Linked DNA regions of Homo sapiens: region 2 is linked to region 1. A link means that fine-mapping ties the variant in region 1 to the expression of a gene that starts in the linked region. Tissue or cell type: fibroblasts. Region 1 holds a variant in brackets; the other region holds the start of a gene. All regions are shown on one strand. Distances are from middle to middle.

Region 1 (8,107 bases):
TACAATGACACGATCTTGGTTCACTGCAACCTCTACCTCCCGGGTTCACGCCATTCTCCTGCCTCAGCCTCCCTAGTAGCTGGGATCACAGGTGCCCGCTACCACACCAGGCTAATTTTTTGCATTTTTAGTAGAGACAGGGTTTCACCATGTTAGCCAGGATGGTCTCGATCTCCTGACCTTGTGCTCCTTCCGCCTTGGCCTCCCAAAGTGCTGGGATTACAGGCATGAGCCACCACGCCCATCCCAAATTTTCTATTTTCTTCTTGAATCAGGGTCAATAATTTGTGTCTTTCATCTCTATTCGTATCAGCTGTGAGGTGGTCATAGATGACTTTTATCAGGTTGAGAAAGTTCTCAACTATTCCTAGTTAGTTGAGTGTTTTTGTCATGACAACGTGTTGGATTTTGTCAGTTGCTTTTCAAATCATTTTTATTTTTTATTTGATTGATTTGTTGTATTACATTTCCTGGAATAAATCCCACTTGGTTATGGTGTATGATCTTTTTACTGTGCTGTCGGCATAGTAATTTTATTTGCATACAGTTTTTTTTTTTTTTTTTTTTTTTTTACCTCCCTTTCCTTTGTTTGGTTTGGTCTAGTCAAGGCTTGTTAGTTTTGTTGATCTTCTCAAAGAACTAACTTTCGCATTCGTTGATTTCCTCTATTGTTTTGCATTCTCTGTTTTATTTATTCCTGCTCTAATCTTCATTTCCCTCCTTCTGCATGCTTTGGGTTTAGCTTGCTCTGCTTTTCTCTAGTTTCTTAAGGTAGAAGTTTGGGTTATTGTTTTGAGATGTTTCTTTTTTTTTTTTTTTAATGTGAGTGTTTACAGCTATAAGTTTCCTTCTGAGGACTGCTTTTGCTACATCCTATAAGTTTTGATATGTTGTGGACTTTTTTTTACATTTCAAAGTTGTTTTCTACTTTCTCTAGTGACTTTTCTTTTGACACATTGTTGTTGTTGTTGTTGTTTTTTCCTTTGAGATGGAGTCTCTGTTGGCCAGGTTAGAGGGCAGTAGCGTGATCTCGGCTCGCCGTAACTTCTGCTTCCTGGGCTCATGCGATTCTCCTGCCTCAGCCTCCCAAGTAGCTGGGATTACAGGCATGGACTACCACACCCGGCTAATATTTGTATTTTTAGTAGAGACAGGGTTTCACTATGTTGGCCAGTCTGGTCTCGAACTCCTGACCTCAGGCAGTCCACCCACCTCGGCCTCCCAAAATGCTAGGATTACAGGCATGAGCCACCACTCCTGGCCAGACACATTGGTTATTTAGGAATATGTGGTTTCCTTTCTGTCTGTTACTGATTTCTGATTTAATTCCATTGTGGTTTGAATGTATACTTTATGTGATTTCAGTCGGTTTACATTTACTGAGACTTGTTCCATAACCTACCATATGCTTTATCCTAGAGAACATTCCATGTGCAACTATTCTGTTGATGTTGGATAGAGTAGTCCTTCGATGCCTGCTAAGTCTATTTGGCTTATAGTGTTGTTCAAGTCTTCTATTTTCTTGTGGATCTTCTGCCTAAATTTTATTAATTAGTGAAAATGTGGTACCAAAGCTGTCAACTTTTATTGTTAAATTTCCTATTCTGCTGGGCACGGTGGCTCATGCCTGTAATGAGGTCAGGAGTTCAGCCTGGGCAACATGGTGAAACCACGTCTCTACTAAAAATACAAAAATTCGCTGGGCGTGGTGGCACGTGCCTGTAGTCCCAGCTACTCAGGAGGCTGAGGCAGGCGAATCGCTTGAACCCAGGAGGCGGAGGTTGTAGTGAGCCGAGATGGTGCCACTGCACTCCAGCCTGGGCAACAAGAGCAAAATTCTGTCTCAAAAGAAATTATAATAATAAAATAAAATAAAATTTCCTATTCTTCCCTTCAATTCTGTCAGTTTTTGCTTTCTGTAGTTTGGGGTGCTACTGTTAGGTATATATATGGTTATAGGTTTTACATCTTCCCAATGGGTTAATTTTGTGTTACCATGAAAGTCCCTTTTTATTTCCGGTAACATTAAAAAAAAATCTATTTTGTCTGATATAGGCATCACCAACTCCAGTTCTCTTTTGTTTACTGTTTGGTATACCTTTCTTTTGATCCTTTTACTTTCAACCTATTTGGGTCTAGTGGAGAGTTCTTATACTGCCTTAGGTTAGGGATTCATATTACATTATCATCATTAGTACTGTTATTTGACATTTGCTGTGCTGACTAGCTACTGCTGATAGGTTTTCTTTCCTCAACAATTCTGAGGCTCTATATTGAGTTATATTAGTACATCATCATGGAGAGTTAAAGGTAGGTAAGGATTATTTTCTGAACTGCAATATTGATTAAAGCCATGTGAATGTATAAGATTCTTAGAAGAGTTGACATTAAATCAAGGTGAAGCTGAGGTTTGAGCCTTACTTAAAGGCTGATATTTTCCACTCTAACTGCGGACAGTACTGTAGCACTGTTATAGTACCTGCTCTGAATGTTAGTCTAGCAACTCAGGGTCTTCTTCATGACAGCTGAACCTCAACCATGTGATGGTAAATGTGTAGCAGAGTATGCCTGGCATCCCACCTGCTCCTCCTCCCCCTCCTCCTTGACTGGTTCTGGAAAGCAAATAGGGTGTAACAATAGGAGTTCTGGAATGTTCCTGTGTGGGGCTGACCTTTGTATCGCTGTTAATCCTCTATTTTCAGACACAAAAATGATTAAGTTAAAACTGGATGAAAGTCTTTTCTGGGTCACAGGGCTGAGCTGCTTTTGCTCTTTGCAAATACAAAGAATTTAACAGGATTCTCCCCTTCTCAACTTCCTGTCCCCCACCCTGACCTTCGCACCTTCCCAATATGAGGAAAAAGCAGGAAGTTTTCCTTGCGGGTTTTTTTTATGATGACATGATGGGGCCAGTTGATCAATGGGGAAAACCCCATGTGGCAACACGCCTTCTGTGTACATTCCCAATATTTGCTATAAATAGGGCCATCCCAGGCTGCTGTCAGAATATAACAGCACTCCCAAAGAACTGGGTACTCAACACTGAGCAGATCTGTTCTTTGAGCTAAAAACCATGTGCTGTACCAAGAGTTTGCTCCTGGCTGCTTTGATGTCAGTGCTGCTACTCCACCTCTGCGGCGAATCAGAAGGTAAGTGTCGCTCTTTCCGCTAGCACAGAAGAAAGACTATTTTCATTTTCCTTTTAGCCTTGAGCTCAACTGGGGGTCCCTAAGGGATGGAAAACTGTTAGGAAGTATACAAGAGGTAGTGATGGAAGTTGTCTGCCCATGGTGGAGTGGAGGAGAGAAGAGTTACTGCTGCGGATCAGGCTTTCCTCTCTGCTGTCAATCTCAGCAGATTTGGGGAGTGGTGGGCTCTTAGAGATCCCTAAACTTCAGGATAAAGCCAAAGTGATGTTTCTGGGAGTGATATAAAGTGTGTAATGTTACCAGTAGATGGGGCCATTTTGAAATGTAGAGAATCCTCCTGTGTCCCCAACTTTCGTACCTCCCAACTTAATAGTTTTGGTAAAGTTCAAAACTCATCCTTTAGAAGTAGATTATAATACCTGACATCAACATCCCCACAAGGCATGGGGGACATTGCTTGCCAACTTTAAAATAACATTAATCCCTTACCTTACAGCATGTTGTAATCTGACTCGGGAATGTCCAAGTATTGCTTTATTGCTCAATAGTCACACAACACTTTTAGCAACAGGTGCATTCCTAAAAATGCACATTGAATTTTTTTTTTTTTCTGAGGCAGGGTCTAACTTCATCACCCAGGCCAGAGTGCAGTGGCATGATTACAGCTCACTACAGCCTCAACCTCCTGGAGTCAAGTGAACCTCCAGTCTCAGCCTCTTGAATAACAGGGACCACGGCCGTGTGCCACTCACCTGGCTAATTTTTTTACATTTTTTTTTTTTTTGTAGAGACAGGGTTTCACTGTGTTGCCCAGGCTGGTCTCGAACTCCTGGAGGCAAGCAATCCTTCCTCCTTGGCCTCCCAAAGTGCTGGGATTACAGGCATGAGCCACCATGCCCAACCACATGTTGAACTTTTATGAACAAAATTAAACATTCCTATTAATTAATAGGACAATTTCAAAGTGTTTTCACTCCTATAAATCATATTTCCCTTTGTAGCTCTATTTCTCAATACTTAGTAGCCAGATAATAGATTAAAATCTGCCAATTTATTCATTTTCTGCTTTTGGAAGTTTATCTACATAAGGGTTCCTTCAAGCAGTAGGGAAGGGGCTGCTCATATTCTTGAATGATTATAGTGAACTGAAATGAAATATTGTCAATTTGTATTTCTTACTGAAGATATCCCACTTATGAGAAGTCCTGTGTTTCTCAATTCTATTATTGAACCAAAACTTCTCGGCACACAAACTGTTTTTTCAAAGAACTGTAAACTATGTTAGATTGGTTCTCAACGACCTTACAAAGGTTTCCAAGACATTGAAACTCCTCCTCTAAGTGGTTTATTCGTCATATACATGAGATTCACTAGATTTTTCACAACTTAAGGTAGTTTTATAATACCAATCACAGGATAAGTTTATTCATGTGGATCCAATACCTTTCACTTTTTTTTTTTTTTAGCAGCAAGCAACTTTGACTGCTGTCTTGGATACACAGACCGTATTCTTCATCCTAAATTTATTGTGGGCTTCACACGGCAGCTGGCCAATGAAGGCTGTGACATCAATGCTATCATGTAAGTTATTAATTGATTTTAATTCAGTTGTATCAGGAATACCTAGAAACTTCAGTTTTAAAAATGTTTGCCTTTTTAGAGTTTCATTCAGAAATTACTGATGTTTTGAACATAAGATCTTATTTTAAAGAGAAAGAAATGATGTGGCAAAGATAGCTTTGTCTTAGTACATATCTACTTTAAAGTTCACTTTAAACAGGACTGGAATAAGGCAAAACCTTTTTTAAAAATTTTTTTTGGTCAAACGGAACTAGTATAGGGCAAAAATCACTTTCTAAGGCTATTAAAGTGATAT[A/G]TTAGGAAAATAGGGAAGATACACATTTCGAAATGAGCATCTTCTACCAGAAAGTGTTTGAGACCAAAAGTAAAATCTCAGACTAATTATACTATCACATATAATTTTCTTGATTTATATAGGATATTATATTTTGGAATTATACAAGTTATTGATCAGATACATACATATTCTATGTAACCACCAATAGCAAAATTATATGACAATTCTGGGACTTTATCTTCCTGCCATTGTACTATTATTTGTTACATTGCAGAGAAAGAGAGAATCACTTTGATTTTGCATTAATCTTCATCAGAAGCATTTTTTGTGCATTTTATTTTACCTCATCAACTGAAATGTTTAGTGTGTAATCAACTGGAATATAAAATTTCCATTGTATGTTCTATGAAAAACCCATTGAAAAGCTCATTAAACACAAATCAAATTTTCTGATTTTTCAGCTTTCACACAAAGAAAAAGTTGTCTGTGTGCGCAAATCCAAAACAGACTTGGGTGAAATATATTGTGCGTCTCCTCAGGTATGTTACACTGACATTTAGCCTTTGCAAATGTTTGAGGAAAGAGGAGTGTGCAAAGGGGTGGGCCGTAGGTTTTCTGGGATTCTTTAGTTTAACTATTGTGGAATTTTTAAAGGGAAAATTTGAGTTGGACCACAAAAACAAAGAATGCATTTTTCCACTTACAGATCATCATCGTTATTATTATTTTAATTTAGTGATTTCTTACATGATGTATTAGATTTCTCTATGCATTTGATAGTTACTAGCTGCCTGATTCTTGTTGCAAAGATGCCTACTATTTATATAATTTAAAGGCAATCTGGCATTTGGTTGTTTGTTAAAAACTGAAAAATGAACATTAGTTAAACAGAGATCAATGGTTCTGATTTACGTTGACAATAATAGACAGTAACACTTTATCAATGGACAGAAGGCACCTAACACCAGCATGCCATAGATACTGAACTTGGAGACACAAGATAAGTGTCCATAGCCTGTTTCTGTCATTAATGAGCTGAGTTAGGTTGGGCAAGGGCCATCCTCTCTAAACCTCAATTTCCTCATCTGAACTCTGAGCTGCTTGACATACTGAGTTGAGATTAAGGGCAGGTGAAGCAACCTTTAGGTACCAAAGTCATTCCCACCATGCAGTCACCTTGTCATTACTTACACTTTTCTTCTTTTTCATTTTACAGTAAAAAAGTCAAGAACATGTAAAAACTGTGGCTTTTCTGGAATGGAATTGGACATAGCCCAAGAACAGAAAGAACCTTGCTGGGGTTGGAGGTTTCACTTGCACATCATGGAGGGTTTAGTGCTTATCTAATTTGTGCCTCACTGGACTTGTCCAATTAATGAAGTTGATTCATATTGCATCATAGTTTGCTTTGTTTAAGCATCACATTAAAGTTAAACTGTATTTTATGTTATTTATAGCTGTAGGTTTTCTGTGTTTAGCTATTTAATACTAATTTTCCATAAGCTATTTTGGTTTAGTGCAAAGTATAAAATTATATTTGGGGGGGAATAAGATTATATGGACTTTCTTGCAAGCAACAAGCTATTTTTTAAAAAAAACTATTTAACATTCTTTTGTTTATATTGTTTTGTCTCCTAAATTGTTGTAATTGCATTATAAAATAAGAAAAATATTAATAAGACAAATATTGAAAATAAAGAAACAAAAAGTTCTTCTGTTGATTGAGTTTTATATCATTTTTATGATGTGTATTGAAACCATTTCCAGGCACAGAAAATATAAGAATTTTCTGAGAAATTATATCCTCCACTTACTTCTAGTTGTTCCCTTTATCTCGGCCCCTCATGGCCCTGGACTTGATTTTACATGAATTATAATGGAACAGTTGTTCTTTTTTTTCTTTAATTCAAAGTCGTCCAGATTAAAAGTTGAAAAAGATCCTATATCTGAGATTCATAACCCAATGTTTATTGATTTAAGAAAACTGTTTAAAATAAGAAACCATGCCCACACACCTTTTGACTACAGGGACACAACAACCATTTAGAATATACCTTCAGGCATCACTTCTTCCATCCTTCTGTCACCAGCCAGGATCTCAGCATACGAACATTTCTCCATTTAAAAGTCCTCCCGAGTCATCTTTAAGCAGTTTCCGAAAGGAAAATGACTATTCAGAGAGTTCTTAGTGGCTGCCTTGCTAACCAGCGGGGAGCCCCCAGACGTGTGAAACCTGGTAAGAGCCCAGCAATCAGGATGAAAAGACTCTGAACCAGTAGTTACTATCACTACATTCATGCATCAAGGTTCACAGAGTGCCTCGGATTCCAAAGGACACACAGGATCACTGGAGGCAGGCATGCTGATGATATGATGCAAAATCAAGACACATAAACCCATAAAGTAGGGCAGTGGTGGGTCACTTGATGTGGAGCCAAAAAAGAGTAAGTGGCTCAATAGTCCCCAAGGGCGTCTGCATCCTCAGGAACAGCAACATTGAATCATCAGGGAAAGTATGCTCAACATCCTGTGTGTTGATTCATCATCACACATAGGTTCAGTATGTGCTGGGCACCGTGCCAAGTGCTAGAGAGAAGAAGTGACTTAAAACTTAATAACTTGCTGCTAGATATTTAAGGCTGAGCAATGTGGCGAGAGGCAGGAATGAGTAAAGCAGCTCTTACAACACTTGGTGGTAAGCACTTTAATAATGAAATCATTGGGCATCATTCGTGAGGGCTTCCAGAAGAAGTACTATGCAGTTGAATCACATTAAGTAGCCAATATTTGATGTCATTGACCTGAGAAGATGACAATTTCACAAGATTCAGCCCAATACTTGTGGTATGAAGAATCAGTAGGAAGTAGCTAGTTGGAAAAGGGACAGCAGGAAGTGTTTGGAAATATCTGCGGGCATGTGTAGTTGTCACAATGTCTGAGGGTGAGTACAACAAGCATTCAGAGGGTAGGAGCCAGGGTTGCTAAACTCACTAGAATGCAACGGATGGTTCTGCACAATGAAGAATTGTCCCACCCCAAACGCCAATCGCGCCACCCTTGAGCAATACCGGATGAAGAGGAGTATATGCAAGTGGGGCAG
Region 2 (8,107 bases), 96 kb before region 1:
CTGAGGCAGGAGGATCCCTTGAGTTACCTGTTTTTTTCTGTGCCCCCAGTTTCTTTCTTTCTAGAACCAAGCTGGCTTCCTGCCTTCAGGTCCAACTTCTGCTCCTTCCTGCTGCCCGCCACTATGAAAATCCCTTTCCATACCCTGGAGTCTCTTGTCCTCCTCCTTCAGACAGAGCTGCCAAGAGCAATAGCTTTATACGCAGAAGCCCATCCACTTCTGGTGGCTTTATGTACTGGGGCCCACCCTCTTCTGCAGCCGATGACATTTGAAATCCCATCCAAAAAAAAAAAAAAAAAAAAGCAGACACCCAGATCCAGATCTTTCTGAAATACAAGTGATTAGAGAGATAAATACATGAATAACACCTTTCCCTGACTATTCTTTTTTTTTTTTTTTTTTTTTTTGAGACAGAGTCTCCCTCTGTCACCCAGGCTGGAGTCTGGAGTGTAGTGGCACAATCTCCCCACTCACCGCAACCACTGCCTCCTGGGTTCAAGCGATTCTCCCACCTCAGTCTCCTGAGTAGCTGAGACCACAGGCACCCGCCACCAGGCCTGGCTAATTTTTGTATTTTTAGTAGAGACAGGGTTTTGCCTTGTTGGTCAGGCTGGTTTTGAACTCCTGACCTCAAGTGCTCCACCCGCCTCAGCCACTCAAAGTGCTGGGATTACAGGTGTGAGCCGCCGTGCCTGGCCTTGCCCTGACTATTCTTACTAAAGTCACCTAATTTAGCTTCTATAGAATTTTGTGCTAAGTGACCTAGACTCTCAAAAAACTACAAAGTAGCCTTATCACCCATCTATAATCCTTTATGTCAAACCCCACACCCCCCCCAAAAAAAAATCTTTGCTGAAATAAAGCATGCCACACAACTTCCAAAGACGTAAACTAGACCCAGATATTCAGTATGTGGGCCAGAATAGTTCTGTTGTTTGTTTTTGTAAGAGCAGAAACAAGTGATATTTTTAAAATTTTATTTTTAGTAAAGATGGGGCTTTGCCATGTTGGCCAGGCTACTCTTGAACTCCTGGCCTCAAGAAATCCGCCTGCCTTGGCCTCCCAAAGTGCTGGGATTACAGGTGTGAGCCACCGCACCCAGCCCAAGTGATCTTTAAGATGCTTCAGATTTTATTTTATCATATATGGTACCATTCCTTTTAATTTGCATGAGGTGTTTGCTGGTAAATTAATCATTTCCTTCCAAATTCTGTTTATTCTGTTATGTCTATGTTCAGATCAATCTAGTCTTAGGGAGAGCAGGAGGAATATGCCTAAGAAAACCATAAAACTAAGAAAAACATAAAACGGCTTAGAAAGTCAACTGAGCCCAGCCTGGGCAAAATAGCGAGACCTCACCTCTATAAAAAATACAAAAATTAGCTAGGCATGGTGGTGTGTGCCTATAGTGCCAGGTAGTTGGGAGACTGAAGTGGGAAGATTGCTTGAACAGGGAAAGTCAAGGCTGCGGTGAGCCGAGATCCCAGCCACTGCACTCCAGCCTGGGCAACAAGAGCGAGACTCCGTCTCAAAAAAAAAAAAAAAAAAAAAAAATTTCAAAAACCCCAAACAAAACAAAACAAAAAAGGAAAGTCAGCTGACATCTAATCCTTGAGATGCAGTGAAAGTTTCTGATTAAATGCACTGAGAGAAGGTGGTGTTGTAGGGAAAAAACTGGATTAAAGAAAAATTAGAGGTCATTTGAGCTATTTTACAACTCTGTAAATTTTAACAACTGATGGCAATGTTAAGTAATTATTGTCTATAGACATGCAAATAAGGTTTATCCCATGAAGGACAACAGTCTTCCTTTCCCCCATGGAAAACCAGTTTCAATATTCCTGATCTATATTTCATTATTCAATATTCCTGATCTACGAATGTACCCATTCTTTGGGTTCTTCTTTGATCTGGCTACTACAGACTCATCAGTTTCGTCACTAATAAGTGCCGGGACTCAGAAGCCGATACCCCAAAATATGGGGCTTTGACATGCTGGAGACCTCAAGGTCTCTCTGACCTTCCCGGCTCCCAGCTCAAAAAAACCTTTGTCTGCCTAAGATCCAGACCCACCAAAAGGAACAACTGTTTCTTTTCCCTTCCCTGTAAGACCAAGAATATACCCCACACCTGAACAGACCCATTCACAAGATAATGTAGCTTATTCTCTCCCCTGACCCATTCATGCTCCCTAGCAGAAGCCCATCCACTTCTGCTGGATGCTCTTCGGCTCCCTCCCGTAACCTCATTTGCCAGGGTAGTCTATAAGCTTCTGAGACATGTTGCAGGGTGGGTAATCAATCACTCTGATTCTCCCTGTGTGCATGTTAAATAAATGTGTATGCATTTACCATTACACAACCTTAAAAGAGTGTTGTTGGTCTATTAGCAATAATGACTGAAGGAAATTGGTATTTTTGTCCATTTCAGCTACTACTAGGATAATCTTATAAGATATTTGGGAAGTTATGTTTTGGTCTATTTAATATATGTGCCTCGATGAAAAAAACACCTTTTGCCACAGGAGACACCAATGTTTCAATATTGATAGGAGCAAAACACATGAGAGTGCTTTTTTTTTTTTTTTTTTTTTTTTTTTGAGGCAGAATCTTGCTGGGTCGCCCAGGCTGGAGTGCAGTGGTGCAATCTTGGCTCACTGCAACCTTCGCCTCCCAAGTTCAAGCCATTCTTCAGCCTCAGCCTCCAGTGTAGCTGGGATTACAGGCACCCGCCACCATGCCCGGCTAATTTTTGCCTTTTTAGTAGAGACGGGGTTTCATCCCAGGGCCAAGCTGGTCTCGAATTCCTGACCTCAAGCAATCCGCCCCGCTCAGCCTCCCAAAGTGCTGGGATTACAGGCGTGAGCCACTGCGCCTGGCCTGAGAGTACTTTTAGAAAACATTATTCCTTTACCTTTTTCAAACTTGAAGCACTCCGAAAGTCCCAACCTTTTGCACATTTGCGGCAGCGACATTGATTTGGTAAACAGCTGTCACACTATTTATTATTTGATGACTTAGGTATCCTTTCCAGCAGTGTTTTTGTAAGGTGTAGTTGCGTTTTCTTTTAGTTTCAATTAACTAAATTTCAAGTGGTTCCCAAAAAAGCCCCTGCTCTCTTAAATTCAAACTCACCTTCCTTTTTCCCACTAGGAAGGACCTTTTCTCCATCCTTGGATTGGAATTTGGAATTCTATGCTAAAATGCCTTTTCAGTTAAAATCTGTGAACGTGGGATGTAACCATAGGAGGTGCTGGCACTTTACGGGAATCATGATTTTATTTAATCTGCGCTTCCAGAAGGCTGCAAATGGGAATTCCAGACAAACCCACTTGGGTGAATCCCAGCACGCGGGCTGCGGCGTAGGGGGAGAGCTCCTCACGCGGCTCAGAGTGTAGCCCAGGCCCGCAGAGCCAGGAACCCGCCCCCAGCTCTCCAAACCCGGGAAGAGAGAGGCGACACTGCTAAGACCGAGGGATGACGGTGCTTCTTCAATTAATTCGCCCCCCGAGATATTCTTACCTACAGAAGGGAGTGTCTGTTCACCAAATCGCTCACTTGCCGCACGACCACGCACCCGCGGCTGTCGGATGGATCCAGGCGCTCTTGGTGGGAAGGGGGCGGAGCCTGCCTGGCCCGGAGCCCGGGGCCACGCCCCCACGCTTTGCATATGCGAATCCGGGCGTCCAGACCTTTCATCCCAGTGTGGAAGCCCAGATTTTCCTGGCCCAGGGCCGGTTTTCTGGGCAGAAACAGTCAACTCTGCTGAAAGGAACAACTTAAGTAATACACTGACATTCAGCATAATGAAGCAAGAGGGCCTGAATCCAACAGCGATCGTTTGCTTTATTTACAAATATGTCCTTTCTTATGAATCCATTTATTTCTCTCCAAAAGCTTAGGAGAGAGGGCTGGCTGGCTGTCACCCCCACTCTACACATGAAGAAAGTGAGGCGGAAGGAAGTAGGCCTAGTAAATAGAGAAGCCTGGGTTTTAGTTGGGGCTCCTGGCTCCAGAGCCAGTGGTTATAATCACTCTGCACTTTTTTTTTTTAAAGGAGGTAGAGTGGGATGGTTTCCTGGCACTTTGAAAATCTGATACAAACAATTTTTTCTTTTCTTCTTCTTTTTCTTTTCTTTTCTCTTTTCTTTCTTTCTTTTTTTTTTTTTTGAGACAGAGTCTCCCTCTGTCGCCCAGGATGGAGTGCAGTGGCGCGATCTCGGCTCACTACAACCCTCCGCCTCCCGGGTTCAAGCGATTCTCCTGCCTCAGCCTCCAAAAATTAACGCCCAGTTAATTTTTGTGTTTTTAGTAGAGACGGGGTTTGGTTTCACCATATTGGCCAGGCTCATCTCGAACTCCTGGCCTCGTGATCCGCCTGCCTCGGCCTCTCAAAGTGCTGAGATTACAGGCGTGAGCCACCGCGCCTGGTCTTTTTTCTTTCTTTCTTTCTTTCTTTTTTTTTTTGAGATGGAGCCTCGCTGTTGTTGGCCCCGGGCTGGAGTGCAATGGCACGATCTTGGCTCACTGCAACCTCCACCTCCCGGGTTCCAGCAATTCTTCTGCCTCAGCCTCCCTAGTAGCTGGGATTACAGGCGCCCGTCACCACACCCAGCTAATTTTTGTATTTTTAGTAGAGATGGGGTTTCACCATGTTGTCCAGGCTGGTCTCAAACTCCTGACCTCAGGTGATCCACCCGCCTCGGCCTCCCAAAGTGCTAGGATTACAGGTGTGAGCCACAGCACCCGGCCACCTGGCCTCTTTTCTTTTCTTTTCTCTTTCTTTCTTTCTTTTTTTTTTTTTTTTGACAAAGTCTCACTTTATCTCCCAGGCTGGAGTGCAGTGGTGCAACCCCAGCTCACTGCAACCTCAATCTCCCAGGCACACTGATCCTCCTGCCTCAGCCTCCCAAGTAGCTGGGCTTGCAGGTGGGTGCCACCACGTCACATTAATTTTTTTGTTTTTTTTTTTTGGTAGAGACAGAGTCTCACTATCTTGCCCAGGCTGGTCTTGAACTCCTGGGCTCAAAGGATCCTCCTGCCTTGCCCGCCCAAAGTGTTGGGATTACAGGCATGAGCCACTACGCTTAGCCTGCAAAGAGTTTATATATTAAAGTGAAACTTCTTATTAAACAGAGAATTTTTTTAAAGCATTACAAGGTTCTTATTGGTTAAAATGGAAAAAATATTTTTATTTCTGTTCATCTCTTGGTGGACTTGAAAAACCCTCCCTAAAGATAAACACTGCGTGGCTTCTAAGGGCTACCAGTGGAAGTGAAATGGATTAAAACACCCCGAGGTGTCTTGGTTCTCTGTCCTACGACTCTGCGTTTTCTATTTTCATCTTCCTATGATTTGTGAAAAGTCCTGAGCTGAACCTTAGGTGTAGGAGTGCCCTGCTCATTGTGCAACCTTGCAAATTGCTGGGTCCTCCCAAAGAATATTGTGAAATTTTCTTAAAGGCTGAAGGTGTCATGATTTCCTTCACACCTCTTGAAGAAAATGAGTTCAAATTGGACCTTGAGAAGTTTACTCTGATTCTCTAATATCTCATAGCCACAGTCTAAATCAGAGAGAGATATTGAGGAATTCATTCATTCATGCATAGAAACATAAATGACACATTTGCAGATTACATGACATGACATTTGAGTTTGATCCCATACGACTGTGTGGGGAGAAGGCTGTGGATGGGGTCATAGATGACAAAAGATTGGCTGTGTGTTGATTATTGTTGACTTGGGCAGTAGTTCTTAGAAACTGATTGCACTATTTTCCATTTTTGTATATGTTTATTTTCCATAATACAAAATTGTTTTAAAATCATTTATTCTGACTGGGCACAGTGGCTAATGCCTGTAATATAGCACTTTGGGGAGCCGAGGTGGGTGCATCGCTTGAGCCCAGGAGTTCAAGACCAGCCTGGGCAACACAGTGAGACCCTGTCTCTACAAAAATACAAAAATTACCCAGACGTGGTAGCATGCGTCTGTAGTCCCAGCTACTTGGGAGGCTGAAGTGGGAGATTGGCTTGAGCCTAAAGAGGTGGAGGTTGCAATGAGCTGAGATCACACCATTGCACTCCAGCCTGAGTGACAGAGCCAGACCCTGTCTCAAATAAACCCATACACAAAAAAGAAAAAAAAATCATTTGTTCATTAAGAAGTTATTTATTGAGTAACTATGTGCCAGACACTGTCCTAGGTGCTTGGGATACATTCGTGAACAAAGCTAAAAATCTCTGCCTTGTAATTTACATTCTAGCTTGGGATGGGGTATATAGAGGGAACATAAATAGTAAACATGATGAGTTAGTGAATTTTATAGTGTGTTAGAAAGTGGTAAGTGCCGTGGATCCCACTGAGAAGAGGATGGAGAAGATGACTAAGCCTGAGGCTTGGAGCTCCAACTTGGGAAAGAACCTACAGGGAGGCTGAATGAGAACAGTAGGAGAGGGAGCCATAGTGTATTAGGGAGTTGCTCAACACTGTGTACCTCCCTATTATACTTCCTCTTGCACTGTTACTAAAAAATGTGGCTGCAATTATGTCCATGAAAACCTATACAAGGCCAGGCATGGTAGCTCACGCCTGTAATCCCAGGTGAGTAGATCACCTGAGGTCAGGAGTTCGAGACTAGCCTGGCCAACATGGCGAAACCCCATCTCTACGAAAAATGCAAAAATTAGCCAGGCGTGGCGGCACACCCCTGTAATCCCAGCTACTTGGGAGGCTGAGGCAGAAGAATCGCTTGAACCCAGGAGGTGGAGGTTGCAGTGAGCCGAGATCACGCCACTGCACTCCAGCCTGGGTGACAGAGTGAGACTCTGTCTCAAAAAAAAAAAAAAAAAAAAAAAAAAGTCTATTTGAATAGTTGATATAGGAGTGGAGAAAAGGTGGCCAGGCAAAGAAAATCTCACATTAGGATTACTGCAAGTAGGCTAATTTATCTGTTTCACTCTTAAATGTTAACTCTTTGAAGGCAAATATTTGTTTAGTTTTTTTTTTTTTTTTTTTTTGAGATGGAGTCTCACTGTGTTGCCCAGGCTGTAGTGTAATGGGTCGATCTTGGCTCACTGCAACCTCTGCCTCCTGGGTTCAGGGGATTCTCCTGCCTCAGCCTCCCGAGTAGCTGGGATTACACGCACCTGCCACTACGGCCAGCTAATTTTTGTATTTTTAGTAGAGACAGGGTTTCACCATGTTAGTCAGGCTAGTCTCAAACTCCTGACCTCAGGTGATCTGCCCGCCTCGATCTCCCAAAGTGCTGGGATTATAGGTGTGAGCCACCGCACCTGGCCTTATCTTTAGATTTCTATCTTGGCTGGATAACTGGCCTAATAGAGCAGCCACATATTTGCTGAGTGAATGAGTAAAAAACACATAGAGAGTTGGAGAGAAGCTGTGACCTGCCGTACTGGGACCATCCAACACTCCCAATCATAAATCAGTTGCAGATGTTGGAGCTCATAAACCGATAACACAAAATACAGTGCCTTGAGATACCGAACTGCAGAAGCCTAAGGGTCTGTCTGATCTCCCCGACAAGGTCTCTTCTGAAGAAGCTGAAGTCTTCTGTCTGCCTAAGATCTAGACCCACCAAGGGGAACTATGGTTTTTCCTTCCCCTCCTTGTAAGAGTAAGAATGTAACCACACTTGAATAGACCCTCTCACAGTCAAAGAGAACTACTTACAAATTAATCTCAGTACCTGATCCTTTATTGTCCTTCAGCAGAATTCCTCTTCTTCCTCCTCCCATAATGTGTTTAGCCAGGCTGGTAGATTGAAGGGGGCCAGCCTCTCCACACCTGTGGGTATTTCTCGTTCATCTCTTGGTGGGACGAGAGACTGAGAAAAGAAATACGACACAGAGACAAAGTATAGAGAAAGAACACTGGGCCCAGGGGACCGGCGCTCAGCATACGGAGGACCCGCGCCGGCTCTGGTCTCTGAGTTCCCTCAGCATTTATTGATCACTCTCTCTACCTTCTCGGCGAGGGGGATGTGGCAGGACTATGGGGTAATGGTGGGGAGAGGGTCAGCAGGAAAATATGAGCCAAGGACTCTGTGTCATAAATAAGTTTAAGGAAAAGTGCTGTGCCTCGATG

The links. PIP is the estimated chance that this variant, and not a neighbour inherited with it, causes the effect.
Region 2: SLC19A3 starts here. The variant in region 1 is fine-mapped to the expression of SLC19A3 in fibroblasts (GTEx, PIP 0.94).

Annotation. Positions count from the first base shown.
Region 1 is chr2:227,810,839-227,818,945 of GRCh38, forward strand. CCL20 (C-C motif chemokine ligand 20) reads left to right here and starts at 3,004. Exons shown (of 4, transcript NM_004591.3): 1 at 3,004-3,149; 2 at 4,616-4,730; 3 at 5,469-5,546; 4 at 6,224-6,718. The coding sequence starts at 3,074. The coding sequence ends at 6,245. RefSeq lists an enhancer at 6,941-8,107. The variant A/G (reference allele first, on the strand shown) is at 5,026.
Region 2 is chr2:227,714,422-227,722,528 of GRCh38, forward strand. It overlaps SLC19A3 (solute carrier family 19 member 3), which reads right to left and starts at 3,607. Exons shown (of 6, transcript NM_025243.4): 1 at 3,522-3,607. RefSeq lists an enhancer at 3,138-4,024.